Homo sapiens: one gene and its partners. The protein of the gene in region 3 interacts with the protein of the main gene of each other region in a pairwise test. Each region holds a gene or a part of one and is shown on either strand. Other genes may lie near its edges.

The links.
Region 1: the proteins of NTRK1 (region 3) and SH2B1 interact in a two-hybrid assay, tested with the Homo sapiens proteins (2 studies listed by BioGRID).
Region 2: the proteins of NTRK1 (region 3) and PTPRR interact in a two-hybrid assay, tested with the Homo sapiens proteins (one study listed by BioGRID and IntAct).

The regions. Positions count from the first base shown.
Region 1 is NC_000016.10:28,859,987-28,866,877, forward strand, and holds the start of SH2B1 (SH2B adapter protein 1), read left to right. Parts: upstream 1-3,856; 5' UTR 3,857-6,108; coding exon 6,109-6,891. UniProt on the Homo sapiens protein: Adapter protein for several members of the tyrosine kinase receptor family.
Region 2 is NC_000012.12:70,658,704-70,665,742, reverse strand, and holds part of PTPRR (receptor-type tyrosine-protein phosphatase R isoform 1 precursor), read left to right. Parts: intron 1-3,137; coding exon 3,138-3,248; intron 3,249-4,535; coding exon of another isoform or gene 4,536-4,541; exon of another isoform or gene 4,542-4,645; coding exon 4,646-4,803; intron 4,804-7,039. UniProt on the Homo sapiens protein: Sequesters mitogen-activated protein kinases (MAPKs) such as MAPK1, MAPK3 and MAPK14 in the cytoplasm in an inactive form.
Region 3 is NC_000001.11:156,877,865-156,882,350, forward strand, and holds the end of NTRK1 (high affinity nerve growth factor receptor isoform 2 precursor), read left to right. Parts: intron 1-1,257; coding exon 1,258-1,498; intron 1,499-2,134; coding exon 2,135-2,293; intron 2,294-3,592; coding exon 3,593-3,778; 3' UTR 3,779-3,986; downstream 3,987-4,486. UniProt on the Homo sapiens protein: Receptor tyrosine kinase involved in the development and the maturation of the central and peripheral nervous systems through regulation of proliferation, differentiation and survival of sympathetic and nervous neurons.

The DNA.
Region 1 (6,891 bases), on a different chromosome or scaffold from region 3:
TTCATATTAATGCCTTGGCTTAACCTGGGCCCTGGATAACGTCCCCACCAACCTTCTCCGCAACCTTGCTCCTTCAGCGACCATCCTCTCTACTGATTCCTTTCCCCTTAATGTTTCCAACAAAATCAGATCTTCCTCAAGATAGAAACAAACAAGCAAACCTTTCTACCTTCTCACACTTACAACCTGCCTTATCTCTGTCCTCCCCTTTTCAGCCAAACTGTGTAGAACATCTCTCCACATTTTTCCTCCCACTTCTTGAATTTTTTTTTTTTTTTTTTTTACGATGGAGTCTTGCTCTGTCACCCAGGCTGGAATGCAGTGGCACGATCTTGGCTCACTGCGACCTCCACCTCCCAGGTTCAAGCGATTCTCCTGCCTCAGCCTCCCAAGTAGCTGGGATTACAGGTGCGTGCCACCACGCCTGGCTAATTTTAGTAGAGACAGGGTTTTGCCATGTTGGCCAGGCGGGTCTCAAACTCCTGACCTCAGGTGATCCGCCTGCCTTGGCCTCCCAAAGTGCTGGAATTACAGGCGGGAGCCACCGTGCCCAGCCTCCTCCCACTTCTTTACCTTCCACTCATTCCTCAAACCACTACCATTTGGCCTCTGCTGAAACTACTCTCACCAAGTCACGCAGCAGTCTCTTAGTTATCAATGCCTTCTAGAGACCATGGCAGCACACCCTGTGATCCCCCACGGATCCCTTTATATCATTTGTGTTTGTGTTTGCCCATTTCCCCCCGACACACACACATCTTATACTCACTCCCACACTCCCTGGTCTCTGGTATGTGATTTCTGTTCCAACAGTTAGGACTCCAGATTTGTTTTTTTTTTAATTTCTTGAGATGGAGTCTCGCTCTGTTGCCCAGTCTGGAGTGCAGTGGCATGATCTTGGCTCACTGCAACCTCCACCTCCCAGGTTCAAGCGATTCTCGTGCCTCAGCCTCCCAAGCAGCTGGGATTACAGGCACGCGCCACCACACGTGGCTAATTTTTTATATTTTTGGTAGAGATGAGGTTTCGCCATGTTGGCTAGGCTGGTCTCAAACTCCTGACCTCAAGTGATCTGCCCACCATAGCCTCCCAAAGTGCTGGGATTGATAACAGTGGGATTGATTACAGGACTGAGCCACCATGCCCAGCACTTTTTTGTTTTTTGAGATGGAGTCTCGCTCTGTTGCCCAGGCTGGAGTGCCGTGGGACGATTTTGGCTCACCACAGCCTCCGCCTCCCAGATTCAAGTGATTCTCCTGCCTCAGCCTCCTGAGTAGCTGAGATTACAGGTATGTGCCACCATGTCCAGCTAATTTTTGTATTTTTAGTAGAGGTGGGGTTTCACTATGTTGGCCAGGATGGTCTTGAACTCCTGAACTCATGATGCGCCCGCCTCAGCCTCCCAGTGTTGGGATTACAGGCGTGAGCCACTGCGCCCGGCCATCTTAGAACATTTTTTTTTTTGAGACGGAGTCTCGCTCTGTCGCCCAGGCTGGAGTGCAGTGGTGCGATCTCGGCTCACTGCAAGCTCTGCCTCCCAGGTTCACGCCATTCTCCTGCCTCAGCCTCCCCAGTAGCTGGGACTACAGGCACCCGCCACCACGCCTGGCTAATTTTTTTTGTATTTTTAGCAGAGATGGGGTTTCACCGTGTTAGCCAGGATGGTCTTGATCTCCTGACCTCATGATCCGCCTGTCTCGGCCTCCCAAAGTGCTGGGATTACAGGCGTGAGCCACTGTGCCCGGCCTTGAACATTCTTAGGTGAGTCAGGATTTATCCGTCTTCCCCTCTTGGGTTATTTATTTGTCTTCGAGTTCCAGGATGGGCACTTGATCCAATCAGCTACTCAGTTCTGGAAATTTCATTGGGAATCTCAGAAAAGAGGCATGCTCCTTCTAGGAGAGTTGCTAAGCTATTAGGGTTTAAGCTTGGAGCTACAAGAAGCTATTTTGCCACTAAGAGAGGAGAGCCTGCCTGAGGGTGAAGCCAAATGCATAGGGAAGGCAGAACCAGAGATGGTGAGCCACAGGTTCCTGATATCTTCTGGCCCCTGTGTTCACCTGTCTGAATCTGTCCGCTCTGGACTTTTCGATTACTTGGGCCATAGCTTCCTTTACTGTTTAGGCCAGCTGGAGCCGGGTCAATCAGACACTGGATGGGTGGAGGATCTCACTGTGCTCATGCTTTCAACTACCCTCCGTACTTTAATTGTTCTCGATTTCTCTAACTGGCCTTGATGTCTCTTCTTAGCTCCAGACTATATGCCCACAGACGTCCCAAAAGCACGTCTGGAATTGACCTCATTATTATTATTGTTATTATTTTTGAGATGGAGTCTCGCTCTTTTGCCCAGGCTGGATTGCAGTGGCGCAGTCTTGGCTCACTGCAACTTCCGACTCTGGGGTTCAAGTGATTCTTCTGCCTCAGCCTCCTCTCAAGTAGCTGGGAGTACAGGCGCCTGCCACCAAGCCCGGCTAAAATTTTTGTATTTTTATTGCAGATGGGGTTTCACCATGTTGGTCAGGCTGGTCTCAAACTCCTGACCTCAAGTGATCCGCCCGCCTCGGCCTCCCAAAGTGCTGGGATTACAGGCGTGAGCCACTGCGTCCGGCCTTGACCTCAATTCTTTTTTTTTTTTTTTTTTTTTGATAGGGAGTCTAGCTCTGTTGCCCGCGCTGGAGTGCCGTGGCGCCATCTCGGCTCACCGCAACCTCTGCCTCCCGGGTTCAAGCTGTTCTCCTGCCTCGGTCTCCCAAGGGGCTGGGATTACAGGCGCCTGCCACCACGCCCGGCTAAATTTTTTGTATTTTTAGTACAGACGGGGTTTCACCATGTTGGTCAGGCTGGTCTCAAACTCCTGACCTCAAGCCATCCGCCCGCCTCGGCCTCCCAAAGGGCTGGGATTACAGGCGTGAGCCAGCGCTCCCGGCCCTGACCTCATTTTTTTTTTTTCTATTTTTAAAATAGGGATTCTAGTTCTGTTGCCTGGGCTGGAGTGCCGTGGCGCCATCTCGGCTCACCGCAATCTCTGCCTTCCGGATTCAAGCTATTCTCTTGCCTCTGCCTCCGGAGGGACTGGGACTACAGGCGCGCGCCACCATGCCCGGCTAATTTTTGTATTTTTAGTAGAGACGGGGTTTCACCATGTTGGCCAGGCTGGTCTCGAACTCCTGACCTCAGGTGATCCACCTGCCTCGGCCTTCCGAAGTGCTGGGATTACAGGCATGAGCCACTGCGCCCGGCCCTGACCTCATTATTTCTACCCACCCCCTCCCCCACCACTACCACCATCTTCATCTCCAGCCTCAGAGATGCAAACTCCTGGACCGCCTGCCCCTTTCCTCAGATAAACCAAGGTCGTAAGTTCAGGCTCCGCCTCCCCGCAGGGCCTCCCCAAGGTCACCCGCTTCTTTCCTCGCTCAGCTCCTTGGTGGCGTTGTCCGCGTGCCCCTCCACAGCGGGGCCGGCGCTCTAGGCTGCAGCGGGCCGTTCACACAGCCTCATCATCTCGCTGGTTTCCGGTGCTCGGCGGCTACTCTAGCCCTCAGCCGGGCCCTGGGACTCTATCCCCTAAGGCCGGTTCTCTATGGTCGACATCGCCCCTTTGTCCCGAATTTCCTCCGGGAGGACGCTCTGGTGGGATCCAAGCACTTCCCCCGCTGCGTCTGTGGTCGCTTTTAGGTGCAACTGGAGAAGGCACTGAAGCCCTACGAGATTCACACCGTCTTCGGTCTCCTGGGGTCGGCGCCGAGTGGGAGGATGGCGGAAGTAAGTATGAAGGTGCCCTTCCCTCCCGCCGCTGTTCTCTATGGTCTCTTCCTTCAGCGACGGGAAAGGGGGTCCTGACGCCTGCGCGGAACCGGGCTGGGCGCTCGTCGCGTAGTGGGTGGGGGCGCAGGGAGCGGGAGCCGCCGCCGCCGCCGCCGCCGCCGGAGCTAACCTCGGGGACCGAGATGCAGGTGGGACCGGAACCGGAACCCCCCTCTTCAAGTACCTTTTCCCTCTCCGCGACCCGGCCCTGGCGCCCGAGAGGATTCCTGGGTGGGGGTGGGCGTGGAGGGCCGGGGGCTGGAGAGGCACTCGGCCCCGGAGAGTGCAGCAGACAGGGCTGGTCCCGAGGTGGATGCGGCCCCGGAAAATGGGCGGCTGGGGGGTGTCCAGGGAGTAGGGTCGGATCGGAGTATATGGACCACCGGGCCCGGAGGGTCCGAGCCGAGAGCGGAGCCTGCACCCTCCACCTCCCGCCCTTCGGGAAATATCAGAACTGAGCCAGGAGGCAGGTGCACCGGGAAAATGTGTCTGAGTCCTGCTTGGCAGAAGAGAAACTGAGTCACCAGCTTAGGAGTCGCAGGGTCAGCGGGCCTGAAGGGGGCTGGGTCTGTCTGCGGTGCGGAGGATTGGGTGGGCCTGTGTGAGCCGAGGTGGCCGCTGGCTGGAGATTGGTTTGCACTTCTTGGCTGGGTTCCCCCGTGCTCCATGACTCCTGCATCTCCTGATTGTTTCTCGTTGGTTTGGAGTTGTCCCTGCGGTTGGAGCCATCTGAGCTTGTAGGGTCGAGGCCCAGGAGGAAGGGGAGGGTTCACCGACTTACAGCCTGGCTGTAGGTTTGAACAGGAGTCTGAGGTCGCTGAGGGTTTGGGGAGGCTTTCCTGAGCTGCTCTGGCCCCAGTCCTGGGGCTGTCACCTTCCAGTATTGCGTGGCGGGAGGAGCGCTAACAAGAGCCAAGGGTTGTAAATTCCACACCCAGCTCTGCCACTTTCTAGTTGTAAGACCTTGAGAGGGCTCCTCCTTTCTCTAATTTCTATTTTAGAAAATTGGAACAATAATATTCTTCTCCCACATGAAGATAGTAACAATGGCAGTCGTTCAGCGGATGCTTACTTTGCGTTCAGCGCTGACATACCCCATTCCATGTAATTCTCTCAACATTTCGAGGGGAGGGATCATTAGCTTTGTTTAACAGATAGAAAAACGGAGGCTCAGAGAGGACGTGGAATTTGTTCAAGATAACATCGCTCATAAGGTGGCTGGACTGGGTGCTCATAAGGTGGTTTGAGCCCTGGTCTGACTCAAGTCCATGGCCTTAACCAGAAGGCTAACCTGCCTTTAGGGCATACTCCCCAGTGGGAGAAGAGGAAGGTGAAAAATCCTAGGGCCCCAGCTCTCCCTGTGATGTTTTGTTTACGTGAGGCCAGCAAAGACTTGACCTGAGCCAACCCAGTTTCTCCTCTGGGGCCCCTGCGGCCTCTGGCCCCAGACTGAAGGGATACCAAAGAAGTGGGCTGTAGCTATTTCACATCTCCTTCACGCAGTGCGTGGGTGCTGGACTCTGGGGTCAGCTTTCAAGACAATTACTGTTTTGGTCCATCATGCATCCATCCTCATTAATGAATCGGCCCCCTCCAAAGAGTTGGACCCTAAGATGCGTGAGGCAGGCTCTCTAAGGTCTAGAATCCCAGCTCCTCTCTAGCCCCCTGCGAGCTGGGGCGGTGAGGTGCTATGGCTGAGGCTGGCCCAGCCGGGCCCTGGGGACAGGGACTATGAAGTGGGGAAAACAGTAGACTTGGAGTTCTGAAACTTTTCTGAGCTTCGGTTTCCTCATCTGTTCGAGAGGTCTTTGAAACCTCTCAGGGAAAGGTAAGATAACCAAGTGGGAGCCTCTAGAATGGCTCATGGGAAGTGTGACATGAATATTGGAGGATCCGATGTAGAGGGGGGGTGATCTGGAAAAGTTCCCTTTTTTAGGGGGAAGGTGCTCCAAAGCCCTCTACTGCTGGATCCAAAGCTAAGGAAAGTGGGGGCAAATGTGGCAGGCTCGGGGCAGGTTAGACGCTGGGGAGCCAGTTGGCTGGGGCCTGCAGGGTGCCAGGATCTGGGAGAGGGAAGGGAGGTGTTGGGCTCCCTTCCCCATTGCTCTCTGCGGAGTCTGAAGTAGGGTCGGACGTCTCTGGCTGGGGGTGGGATGCAGCCTCCGGTGCGCCCTCAGCAGTGACCCTCGTGTGTGCCTCTCTCTTCCTTTCGCAGCTGCTGCCGCCCACCCCTCGTCTTCTGGCTGCCTCCCTCTTTGTGCCCCACAGGCTCCCCCTCTCCACCTCCTGGGGCCCATCATGAATGGTGCCCCTTCCCCAGAGGACGGGGCCTCCCCCTCGTCTCCCCCGCTGCCCCCACCCCCGCCCCCTAGTTGGCGGGAGTTCTGTGAGTCCCACGCCCGGGCTGCGGCTCTGGACTTTGCCCGCCGTTTTCGCCTCTACCTGGCCTCCCACCCCCAATATGCGGGGCCCGGGGCCGAGGCTGCCTTCTCCCGCCGTTTTGCTGAGCTCTTCCTGCAGCACTTTGAAGCCGAGGTGGCCCGGGCCTCTGGCTCCCTGTCGCCACCCATCCTGGCTCCCCTGAGCCCTGGTGCGGAGATTTCGCCACATGACCTGTCCCTTGAGAGCTGCAGGGTGGGTGGGCCCCTGGCTGTGCTGGGCCCTTCTCGATCATCTGAGGACCTGGCCGGCCCCCTCCCTTCCTCAGTCTCTTCCTCCTCTACAACCTCCTCCAAGCCGAAGCTCAAGAAGCGCTTTTCCCTGCGTTCAGTGGGTCGCTCTGTCCGAGGCTCAGTCCGTGGCATCCTGCAGTGGCGGGGGACCGTTGACCCTCCCTCCTCCGCTGGGCCCCTGGAGACCTCGTCAGGCCCCCCAGTCTTAGGTGGAAACAGCAACTCCAACTCCTCTGGCGGGGCTGGGACCGTTGGTAGGGGACTGGTCAGTGATGGAACGTCCCCTGGGGAAAGATGGACTCACCGTTTTGAGAGGCTGAGACTCAGTCGGGGAGGGGGCGCCTTGAAGGATGGAGCAGGGATGGTGCAGAGGGAAGAGCTGCTGAGTTTCATGGGGGCTGAGGAGGCA
Region 2 (7,039 bases), on a different chromosome or scaffold from region 3:
CTTGGTGGGGGCCAGAAGGAGAATCAAGGGAAGAAAAAAGATCACAAAAATATGAGCTGGCGGCCGGGCGCAGTGGCTCACGCCTATAATCCCAGGACTTTGGGAGGCCAAGGTGGGCAGATCACCTGAGGTCAGGAGTTCAAGACCAGTCTGGCCAACATGGTGAAACCCCGTCTCTACTAAAAATACAAAAATTAGCTGGGCGTGATGGTGCACACCTGTAATCTCAGCTACTTGGGAGGCTGAGGCGGGAGAATCGCTTGAACCCGGGAGGTGGAGGTTGCAGTAAGCTGACATTGTGCCACTGCACTCCAACCTGAGTGATAGAATGAGACTCCATCACAAAAAAAAAAAAAAAAAAAAAAAAAAAAAAAAAAAGAATTTGCATTGCTTTGTGTTACATCCTACTTTTGCTGTAAACCACCAGTTACAAAGCACTGGTTAATGTCCAGAATCTTTTCAGTCAGAGTTTGATAATAACTTGTTTGCACAAGAGACACTGTCCTCTGGAAACCTATTTTTTTCTTCCAAATTATGGATTCTTAGAATTAATAGATAATTTTACTGAAAGGATAAGCCTAGCTAGCAAAAGAATAGTGATGATTTGGGGTTATATTCTGCTAAATAGCATGCTATTTTGAATCACCTACAATTAGTGTGGTTTCACAGTATTATCTGTAAGGCAGCATTTTTCTTCCCTGCCTTTTCTGCCTCTTTTATCTCATTGTTAGCACCACAATAAAGAAACCCTAAAAAGCTGTACAGGAAAATAATTTGAACATGAACTTGTACTCTTAGAAACAACTGCATTTGCAGCTGTCCCCCACCTCATATTCAAAAGTACCCACACTTATCTGGTCTCTTTTTCTGTCATCTAAATGAGGGAAAAATGTATTCAGTGTGTAAAAATAAGCTATTGTATCTCAGAAAGGAGATGGGATGCTAATTAAGGGTTGTTTGAATGAACAAGTCACATTGCATTGTCTACTGGGAGCTGACTGCCAATTGCTTTTTTGGTAACGAGTCAAAAAAAACATTCAAGAGGGCCCCCGGCAAGCTTGGGAGAGAAGCGAGCAGCATTTCCATTTATCAAGTAGGTGCAGAAGCCTGTGCAAGTATTAAGAGTCAGGGTGCAGGCGGCAAGCTCCTGCTTTGCAGCTTTTCTTACTGGTTTTGAGAGCCACCTTCCTAAAGAGGGCCCTGCTGCTCAGGTCTGATCGTGGACAATGGGGCACGTACGCCAGACTGCTGGACTACTGAATGAATGCCTCTTTCTTTGTTCAATACCTTTTCCAAGATTCTTTGTCATTCTTCTTGGACTCATCGGGAGGCATGGGTTTTAAGATACACAGTAGCTCGGGTCTTACAGCGAAATAATTGATGCTTCATTGAAAGAAACCAGGCAAATTGGTTTGTATGATTACCTTTAACAAAGTGGGAAAATTTTAGACATTTGGCAACTCATAGATTTCGAGAGAAATGAGTTGCTCTACTTTAAAAAGGTTTCTTCTCTTAATGTTAACATTAAGTCAGCCAGAGTAAGTCTTTTGGTCTGATAGCCTGAGAGTCTCAGGTGGCATGTAAATAAAGCTGAAACAATTTACTTCATTTAGAAAAAGGGTCAAAATGTAGAGGATGTAAATGTGTTTTTATTGTAATGGATGAAAGAAACTGATTCTGCTAGGTGAAGTGACTTCCTTCGCTGTGCTAGCTTGTAGAGTAGTGGTACTTAGCATAATAGAGCCCTGGAGGTGTGTTTCTGATACTTTGTGTCACTTTTCCTTCAGTTCTATAATTTTGTGAGTCTTTTGCTGCTCTTTTAAATCTATAAGTATTTAAATTTTTATCAAGTGTATTCATATGCCTTTGACAAAGATGTGAAGAAACAAGTGTCCTGGGTATTAAAAGGTTCTGATTGAAGGCAACAAATGAAAGAATTTCTATGTAAATGTATGTATGGTTGGGAGAAAATAAGTGCTATTTAAACATTTCTAAAATTAACATTGCTTCCAAGAGCACTCAAAATAAAACATAAACATTTGTCATTTTACATTCTTTATCATCAAAATTTGTGGTAAAAAATAGTTATTTTACAGTTGTTTAAAAAGCAAAATGAGATTATATGTATGCTTGAATCTCATTTTGCAATTTTTATTTAATAATGATAACTGACTATAATAATACCAAAATAATATTTAATGCATGAAGATCTAATCACTTTGGGCCAAAAACCTATCACCCAGTAGTTTTAAAATAACAACAGCAATAATAACATGTTGTAAGTGCTTACTCTATGCCTGGCTTTATCCTAAGTACTTTCCAGATAGCCAATAATAAAGAAACTATAACCAAAGGGTTTAAGTATCTTGTTCGTGGATTCACAGGTAATGAATGGTAGAACCAAAATTTGGACTCAGGTTCCGAGTTCAAAGCCTGCGCCTTAACCACCATGCTATGTTGCCTTGCTTGCAGTATAATTATTGTCACTCTTTTAAAGCTCCTCAGGAGGATCCATTATAAAAATATTTTTAACGTAATTTTTGTAAATTAGTTCCATAAGTGAAAAAAACTGTTGGTCCGGGAAAATATAATACCATAGTTGTATTAATGATCATTATATCTGCCTTACATATAAAGGAAACTTGGTTGTATGCCACCTAACATATTAGATATTCTCATTAGACATAAGTTTGTTGAAGCAGGAAAATGTAACTTTCCTCAATTATTGTGGGAAAACATTCTTTTATTTCTAGTCAGCACATGATAAATTCTAATATTTGGATCTCAATTTCTTAACTCTTAAATTTCTTAACTTCTTAATTAGTTCTTAATTTCTCTGAGGAGTTTTGGGTAATTCTGCCTTTTTTTTTTGTATGGAGCCAGCAGTGACAGTGTTTAATAGGCACATATGAAACTGATACTTTAAAAAAAACTGTTGAGATATAATTTATATACCATAAAATCTAGCTGCTTAAGATTTACAATTCAATGGTTTTAGTATATTTACAAAACTATAAAAATTGATATTTGATATTTTAAAACTAATGATATAAAACTCTTGAGATGCTTGAATGAAAAGTACTCCATGGCTAATAAAAGCCATTAATATTTGCTGTATTCTCTTTCCCTTCCTCCAGAAATGTGTGCTATACTGGCCGGAAAAGAGAGGGATATATGGAAAAGTTGAGGTTCTGGTTATCAGTGTAAATGAATGTGATAACTACACCATTCGAAACCTTGTCTTAAAGGTAAGATTATGTAGCTATAGCCATCTACAAAGTAGATGATGTTAGAGGATTACATTTCTACTTTGAAATTATTTAAGTACTACAAATGCAATTTAAGCAAATTAAATAATGTTAAGATCAAAGAGAAACTATAATCATTCCCTCATGTATTTTTTGTTGTCAACTACTATTAATATGCAGTATAATTAAATGAATGTAAGTAGACATTAAGAAAATTCATTATGTAGGATGTTGTGATCCTCTAATTTGCGTTAATAAAATATCTCTGATTTAACCTTTTGAAAGCTTTTAACTAAAGGCTGTGCTGGAGACTTTACCATGATTTTTTTTAATGTCATTTTGATCTAAGCAGCTTTGCGTAAGGCCTGGAAGCTGTGAAAGAGAAAATCTGCATTTGTGGGTGGCAGTGGGAAGCAAGGCAAGCCTGAAGTGTTGATGAGATCTTCAGAAGCGTGGAGTTACAGTAATTTATAGGGACTTTCCCCAGACGAGATTATGTCATAGGAAAACTATCTTATTTAACTCATGGGCAGCAGATGCTGAGAAATGTTACCATGGTATTATTTTTGCTTCTGGAGAATAATCACCCAAAAATTTCGATCTTATCTGCAGCCTCACTGCTGGGATAGAATCATCACAAAGAGGAAGAAAACAGGGGCAGAGCTACAGTGATGGCTTTTGTTGGGAAGTTTGGAATAGGAAGGCGTTTACCAAAACCTGTTTTTCAACACATGTTCTGGAGTGCCGGGGAAGTTTGGAATAGGAAGGCATTTACCAAAACTTATTTTTCAACACATGTTCTGGAGTGCGAGGTTCATGCCACACCCTCACCCGTGCTGGGTTTGGAGATGAGGTGTGTGGGCCCTCACCCAAGTGTTTCCAATAGAGGGATCTCATGTAGCTTCTTTATTGCTGTGATTCCTCACTCCTATTAAATACTGGAGTTTTGGATGAGTGTAGAAGTATTAGCATGACTGATATGAAATTAAGTGTTCTATTGATTAACATGTTTATAATAACTTGTCAGGAATGCTCATAGAGCAGGAAACAAAATATATCTCATTCTTTCTTGGCTACATTTTCACCTACCATCTTGTTTATTATAATAAATTATAAATATATATTTAGCATATGTTACTTATATGATCTATATTATAACTATAGGTAGAGATGTAAATCTCAACAAAGGTATGACTTTCTCACTTTGCAAACAGGTTACTGACAGTAAAGTCTTCTCAAAGTAAAAGGGCACTCTTCAAAAATCTTCTAAATTTTTTTCCCACCTAGAAATAAATTGCCAGCAAGATGGGGGTGATAAAAGGCATTCAGTATTGTGGTTTGGATGACTTTTAGTTCTACAAGTGAATGAGGCATTTGGTGGCTGTTGCTATTTTCAGCAAGGAAGCCACACCCAACATGTGAAGCATTACTGGTACACCTCATGGCCTGATCACAAGACTCCAGACAGTGCCCAGCCCCTCCTACAGCTCATGCTGGATGTAGAAGAAGACAGACTTGCTTCCCAGGGCCGAGGGCCTGTGGTTGTCCACTGCAGGTAAGACGTGTATGGTCCTTTCTGTCTAAGCAATGGCCCATTCTTTGTAAAGTCACAGAGCAGGTGCAAGTGGGTTTTGCTTCCTGGATGTGACTTTGTTGGCAAATTAAATATTTATTGAAATTGGTTAAGTCTGTAATATTTGAGTCTGAATCAAGATTATGCTGACAGAAGTGAAGTCATGCTTTTAGGTCATTTTTCACAAACAACAATTACACAGTCGGCGAAATACAAGTTCGTAATAAATGGCTCAGTGAACAGGAGACCTATTCAGCAGTTATCTGCTTTGAAACTTATATTGATTGATTTAGTCTCATCAGTCTTGTACACACCAGGAATAAAGATGCACTTTTTGAAATTATCAGTGGCTTTTTTGTTGTTTCAACATGACATGTGAACTCTGCTTGGCTTGTATCTTGGTAACATTACTATTTCAAGTTTGGTGAAAACCAGTCAATTATTTTAAGAGTTATCTCCAGAAAAACAGGTTGAAACAAATTTATGAAATGAGAAGTGAGCAAGTCACCAAAGGAAAACAAAGTGCTGTTACCAGAACATGGAGCACTAGAGGCCAAGCCAACAACAGCAGCAGGGTCTGTGCTGGTTCCTGTCCCTAATTTCTAGTTCAAAGCTCTCTTCCTAAAACTGATACCTCCTTCCCCTAATTTTCCTTTTAATGTAACCAAACTGAAGGCAGCATTTTTAAAGTAATTTATATGAACAACTATTTATTTATTTATTTATTTATTTATTTATTTATTATGAGACAGAGTCTCACTCTATCACCCAGGCTGGAGTGCAGTGGCGCTATCTCGGCTCACTGCAACCTCCGCCTCCTTGGCTCAAGTGATTCCCCTGCCTCAGCCTCCAAAGTAGCTGGAATTACAGGCATGCACCACCACGCCTGGCTAATTTTTATATTTTTAGTAGAGGCGGGGGTTTCACCATGTTGGCCAGGCTGGTCTCAAACTCCTGACTTCAAACGTGATCCACCTGTCTTGGCCTCCCAAAGTGCTGGGATTACAAGTGTGAGCTACCATGCCCAGCCAGCCATTTATTCTTCATGCTTTCTCAAAATAATTTGGGTTGCTTTGTTTAACCGCATAGGTCTCTTAAGTCAGCTTTTGATGATATATTTAATAAATATATTATTTTAGAGTATAATTTTAGCCTCCTTTTTTGAGATTGTGTGGTTTAATTAAGAGTAAAGTTTACTATGTGTCTATTTATCCAAAGGTAGATAATACTGGCTTTATCCTAAACTTAACTTGGAGCCAAAAAAACAAAAACAAAAAAACAGCCTAACTGACTATGCGTTAGGGCTGGAACTGTCCCCCACCCAAAGTCATTAAACACTCAGGATATCTAAAATGAACTAGTCACTTCCCCTATAAAACCAGCTCCCCTTCTGATTACTATTTCTGAGAATGAGACTATCTTTTTTCCAGTCACTCAGGATCCCATGTTGACAGTTATCTCTGGTCCTCCTTTTAACTCCAACATCAGTATCTAATCAGTCACTAGATTGGCTTTCCCTTCAAAGCTTCTCCCATAATCACCATTTCCTGTCCAGCCACCATAGTTCAGGCCCTTCTGACCTCATCCATGTATTTTAGAAGTAGCTGGTAAAATGCACACACATACCGCATTCCCCCATGCTCTCACCGCCACCATGGCCTACCTGTGCCCTTTCTCCGTCTCACCTTACATGGAGTCTCTGCTCAAAGCTTGTCAATGGGCCAGGTGCGGTAGCTCACACCTGCAATCCTAGCACTTTGGGAGGCCGAGGCAGGCAGATCACTTGAGGTCAGGAGTTCAAGTCCAGCCTGGCCAATATGATGAAACGCCCTCTCTACTAAAAATACAAAAATTAGCCAGGCGTGGTGGAATGTGCCTGTACTCCTAGCTACTTGGGAGGCGGAGGCAGGAGAATCGCTTGAACCGAGGAGGCAGAGGTTGCAGTGAGTCAAGATCCCGCCACTGTATTTCAGCAGCCTGTGCGACAGAGAAAGACTCTGTCTTATAAAAAAAAAAAAAAAAAAAAAAAAAAAAAAAACTAGAGCAAAAGTCCCTAACGTTGAACCTATCCATAAACCGCAGAGGTCAGTGAACTCCTTGAAATTATTTGGACACATTTGAGTATGTAAACTTATGTGAATTTTTCTGAAGAGTGGAAGCTTATAGTCTTCATCAAATTCTTACTTAAAAAAAAAAAAAAGGATGTATTTCAAACCAC
Region 3 (4,486 bases):
GAGGGAGCCCATGCAGGGTGTGGAGCAGGAGGCGAGGCCAGACCCAAGGTTGAGTGTGGAGGAGGATAGGCACAGAGGAGCCCAAGAAGGCCAGGGAGGAGCCTATCTCTTTGCTCCCAGACATGGCATAGGCTCAGTGCTGGTCTTGGGGACACAGGCTAGGGAGATACCAGCATCTGGGGCCCAGGCTGTGGGAGACGAGGCTCTAACTGCTGGATGGAACACTGGGGGAATCAATGGAGGGAATCATTAATGCTCAGAGATGAGTCTGGAAGACTTCCCCTAGGAGGGACCATCTGTTCCTTCTCCCCTCCAGGCCTTTGTACTTCCAGTTCCCTCTGCCTGGGGCATTGGGCCTCCCTCCCTCCATAGAAAGATGGAGACAGACACACAAACTCTACCCCTCCCTGCCTCAGCTCCCTTCGAATGGCTTCAGGACTTGAGTCTCAATTTAGGTGTCCCTTCCTCTAGGAAGCCTTCCCTGGCTTTTTCCATTCCCACCCGTGGTGCCTGCCAGGTGCCCCTCACACTGCACTGCCATGACCTGCTTATCTGCATCATACTCTGCACTGTAGCCCCAGTGCTTGGCACACTGGAAATGTTTAACAAATGCCTCAACTAAACAAATGAGGAGAAGATTGGCTAGTAGGAAAGGGCATTTTTGGCAAAGTGATCAGTTCAGGCAAAGGTTCAGGAGAAGGAACATTGGGGAATATGGATGAGTGACTAGGACTGACCCGAGTGCTCGCTCTGGGGAGAAGGCGGGCATCCTGGACACCTTCGAAAGGAAGGAAGACCCCGTAGGAATGGCTGGACACTGAGGGCAGAGGGGAGAGAGACAGGACAATCAAGGACTCCCTGGTTTCAGGGTCTGCCTGGGTGGGAAGGGTCCCTTCCCTGAGGCAGGGGCAGGCTTGGGGAAAGACACCGAGCTCCAATTGGCAAGGGCTGAGTCTGACATGCCTATGGCAAGGGATGTAGGGGCCAGTGGGCATCTGGAGTTCAAGGAGCTGCCAGAGAGGAAGGCATGGATGTGGGAACCATGGGCTGTCTCTGGTGGGAGCCCTGGAGGTGGGCACACCTGTTCCGCTCCTCCATCCCACCCCTCTGGACAGCTGCCTCTACTGTTCTCTCAATCCTCCACTTCCAGGTCCCCAGTCTCCTCTCCCATCACACGCGGCTGCTGGGGATCGCCTTCCTCAGGCTCCTGGGAGTTCTATCCTCCCAGCCTATCCCCTCTCCTTTTCTTGTTCACAGATCCCATGGACCTGATGCCAAGCTGCTGGCTGGTGGGGAGGATGTGGCTCCAGGCCCCCTGGGTCTGGGGCAGCTGCTGGCCGTGGCTAGCCAGGTCGCTGCGGGGATGGTGTACCTGGCGGGTCTGCATTTTGTGCACCGGGACCTGGCCACACGCAACTGTCTAGTGGGCCAGGGACTGGTGGTCAAGATTGGTGATTTTGGCATGAGCAGGGATATCTACAGCACCGACTATTACCGTGTAAGGGTCCTTTGTCCCCAACGCCTTCCCCTGCATCCAAACTGTAGACACCCTGGATCCCAAGACCACTGAGAGCCTGCCCTTGCTAGGATGGCTGCATGGGTCTGAGATTCACTGGCTCTGGTTTTCAACCTACCTCCTCGGCTCCTGGTGGAGGGGGCTCTGTCTCCTTCGCTATCCCAGATGGAAACAGCACCTTCGGTTTTTGCCTCTTAGACCTGAGAGCCACCACTGTTTGTTTATTTATTTATTTAATTTATTTTTTTGAGACGGCGTCTCACTCTGTTGCTAGGCTGGAGTGCAGTGGCACGATCTCGGCTCACTGCAACCTCTGACTCCCTGGTTCAAGCGATTCTCCTGCTTCAGCCTCCCGAGTAGCTGGGATTACAGGCCACACGCCATCACGCCCAACTAATTTTTGTATTTTTAGTAGAGATGGGGTTTCACCATGTTGGCCAGGATGGTCTCGATCTCCTGACCTCGTGATTGCCCACCTCGGCCTCCCAAAGTGCTGGGATTACAGGCGTGAACCACCGAGCTTGTGTATTTATTTTTAATGATGGGGCTGGGGTAGGCTGTGCCTTGACGGGCTGTCCCAGGCGCCCCTGGAATTGATGCAGTGTCCGCCCGTGGCAGGTGGGAGGCCGCACCATGCTGCCCATTCGCTGGATGCCGCCCGAGAGCATCCTGTACCGTAAGTTCACCACCGAGAGCGACGTGTGGAGCTTCGGCGTGGTGCTCTGGGAGATCTTCACCTACGGCAAGCAGCCCTGGTACCAGCTCTCCAACACGGAGGTCAGCCCCGGCCCATGGTCACCCCTTGCTGGCCTCCCCGTCCCATGCCCCTTCAGGTTCCTTTTTCAGGGAACTCGGTTCCCCTTCTGCCCCTCTGCCACAGCCTGTTGGGGGGCCCTTTCCAGCGCCGTGCCCACACTGTGTCCCCTCCACTGTGGCCCTTTTCTTCTCTTCCTCCCTTATTCTTGCCTTCACCTACTGTCCTAAGCCCAGGCCCAGTTGGCCCCTGGGGGAACCTCAAAGTGCTTTGTACAAGGAGCCCAGACCCCCATCCCTAGCTGCATTTTATAGACCTAAGCAGGAATTATCAGAGTGGAAGGGACCAGCACGGGAAGAGGAACCCAGCACAAGAAGGCCCAACACTGCAGCAGGACGGCTGGAGGTTAGACTGTCAGAAGGACAGTCCTACCCCCTCCCCCTGCCCTCCTAGCTGGCCACAGCCAGAGCAGGCCCCAGGTGTTCTGTCTCCCAGAGCAGCTGCCCCCACCCCCTGCTTGGCTCGCAGCTGTCAGTTTCCATTTCTCCTCCTAATGCAGTCTGCTCCCCGGAGGCTGGTGGGGTGGGGGAGAGGGTTATAGATTTTAATTTTCTCAAGCACTGAGAGAAGAAATGGAATTAGTGCCGCCCATAACCCAAGTCCTCTAATAGGGAGGGGGGAAGAAGGGGAAAAGAGGCTCCAGGCCCCTTCTCCAATCACTCCCTGCCACCCTTTCTCCTTTGGATTCCTTGGCTGCTTTAGCAGTTCTTCCTAGAGTCTAACTTTGATCTTTCTTGCTGCAGTTTCTTTTTGGGAGAGCTAGTCAGTCCCACAGAGTGGTATCCCTAGAAGGGAGAAGTAAGGATTGCCCTCTTCTTTAAAATGAAAGCCAGCTATTTTTCACGCCCTTTAACTGCAGTTCTGCTCTATTTTCTTTTCTCTCTCTGGAGCTGAGAGTCAGAGGGCCCTTCTCCTCCTCCTTTCAGCCCCCAACACTAAGCTGATGGATTGATAAATACCTCAGCCCCTCGCCTTCCTCAACCCACCTGGCAAGTCTTCTTAGGATCTGATCCCAGTTTTCTGGAAGCAATCCTACCCCAGCCCAAGCTTCCCATAGTCGAGCCTTAATCCTTCTCACTTCTCAGTGTCAGAGCAGAAATGAATCCTGGGGTTGACTGTGTCCATTCGGGTTATTAGCAGCTAAGAAGCCCAGACGAGTAGTGTGAGCTGCCTTGGGAGCCTCAGTGAGGGCACTGGGACTGGCCTCACTCTCTTGCCCCCAGCCTAGTGGGCTTTCTCCTCTGTCTCTCCGGTGGCCCCAGGCAATCGACTGCATCACGCAGGGACGTGAGTTGGAGCGGCCACGTGCCTGCCCACCAGAGGTCTACGCCATCATGCGGGGCTGCTGGCAGCGGGAGCCCCAGCAACGCCACAGCATCAAGGATGTGCACGCCCGGCTGCAAGCCCTGGCCCAGGCACCTCCTGTCTACCTGGATGTCCTGGGCTAGGGGGCCGGCCCAGGGGCTGGGAGTGGTTAGCCGGAATACTGGGGCCTGCCCTCAGCATCCCCCATAGCTCCCAGCAGCCCCAGGGTGATCTCAAAGTATCTAATTCACCCTCAGCATGTGGGAAGGGACAGGTGGGGGCTGGGAGTAGAGGATGTTCCTGCTTCTCTAGGCAAGGTCCCGTCATAGCAATTATATTTATTATCCCTTGGCTGTGTCTCTTGCCAGTTATTGGGATGACGTCGTTCCAGGAGGGAGGCATTGGGATTCAGGTAGGGGGACAGCTCTCTGGGATCTTCCCCCACTCAGGTTCCCCTCAGCTGCCTACCCCTACTCCATGGACCTGTCACTCTCACCTTTGACTATAGTTTGGATCCCATTCCCATGGTCACCTGGCTCACCTGCTGGTAAGGCAGCCTCTGGTCAAACTTCCTAGACCTTGAGAGCCTAACTGTCAATCTTTGTAGTTCATGTTCAGGAAGGCTGGGCTATAGTGGAAGGGGTGGAAGTTAGATGTACTGGTAGGATGGGAGCGTTGATGGGGTGTCTTCCTTGTATTGGTGTGTCCGGGACAGAGCAAGCACGCAGCAGCAGATGAGAGAGAAACATGTGTGTGTGTGTGTGGGGTGATGGGGGGCAGGAAAGGGACGGAGCTGGACTAAGGATTGATGGAGGCAGGACCCCTTGTTCCTGCCCCTCTGTTACTCTTCT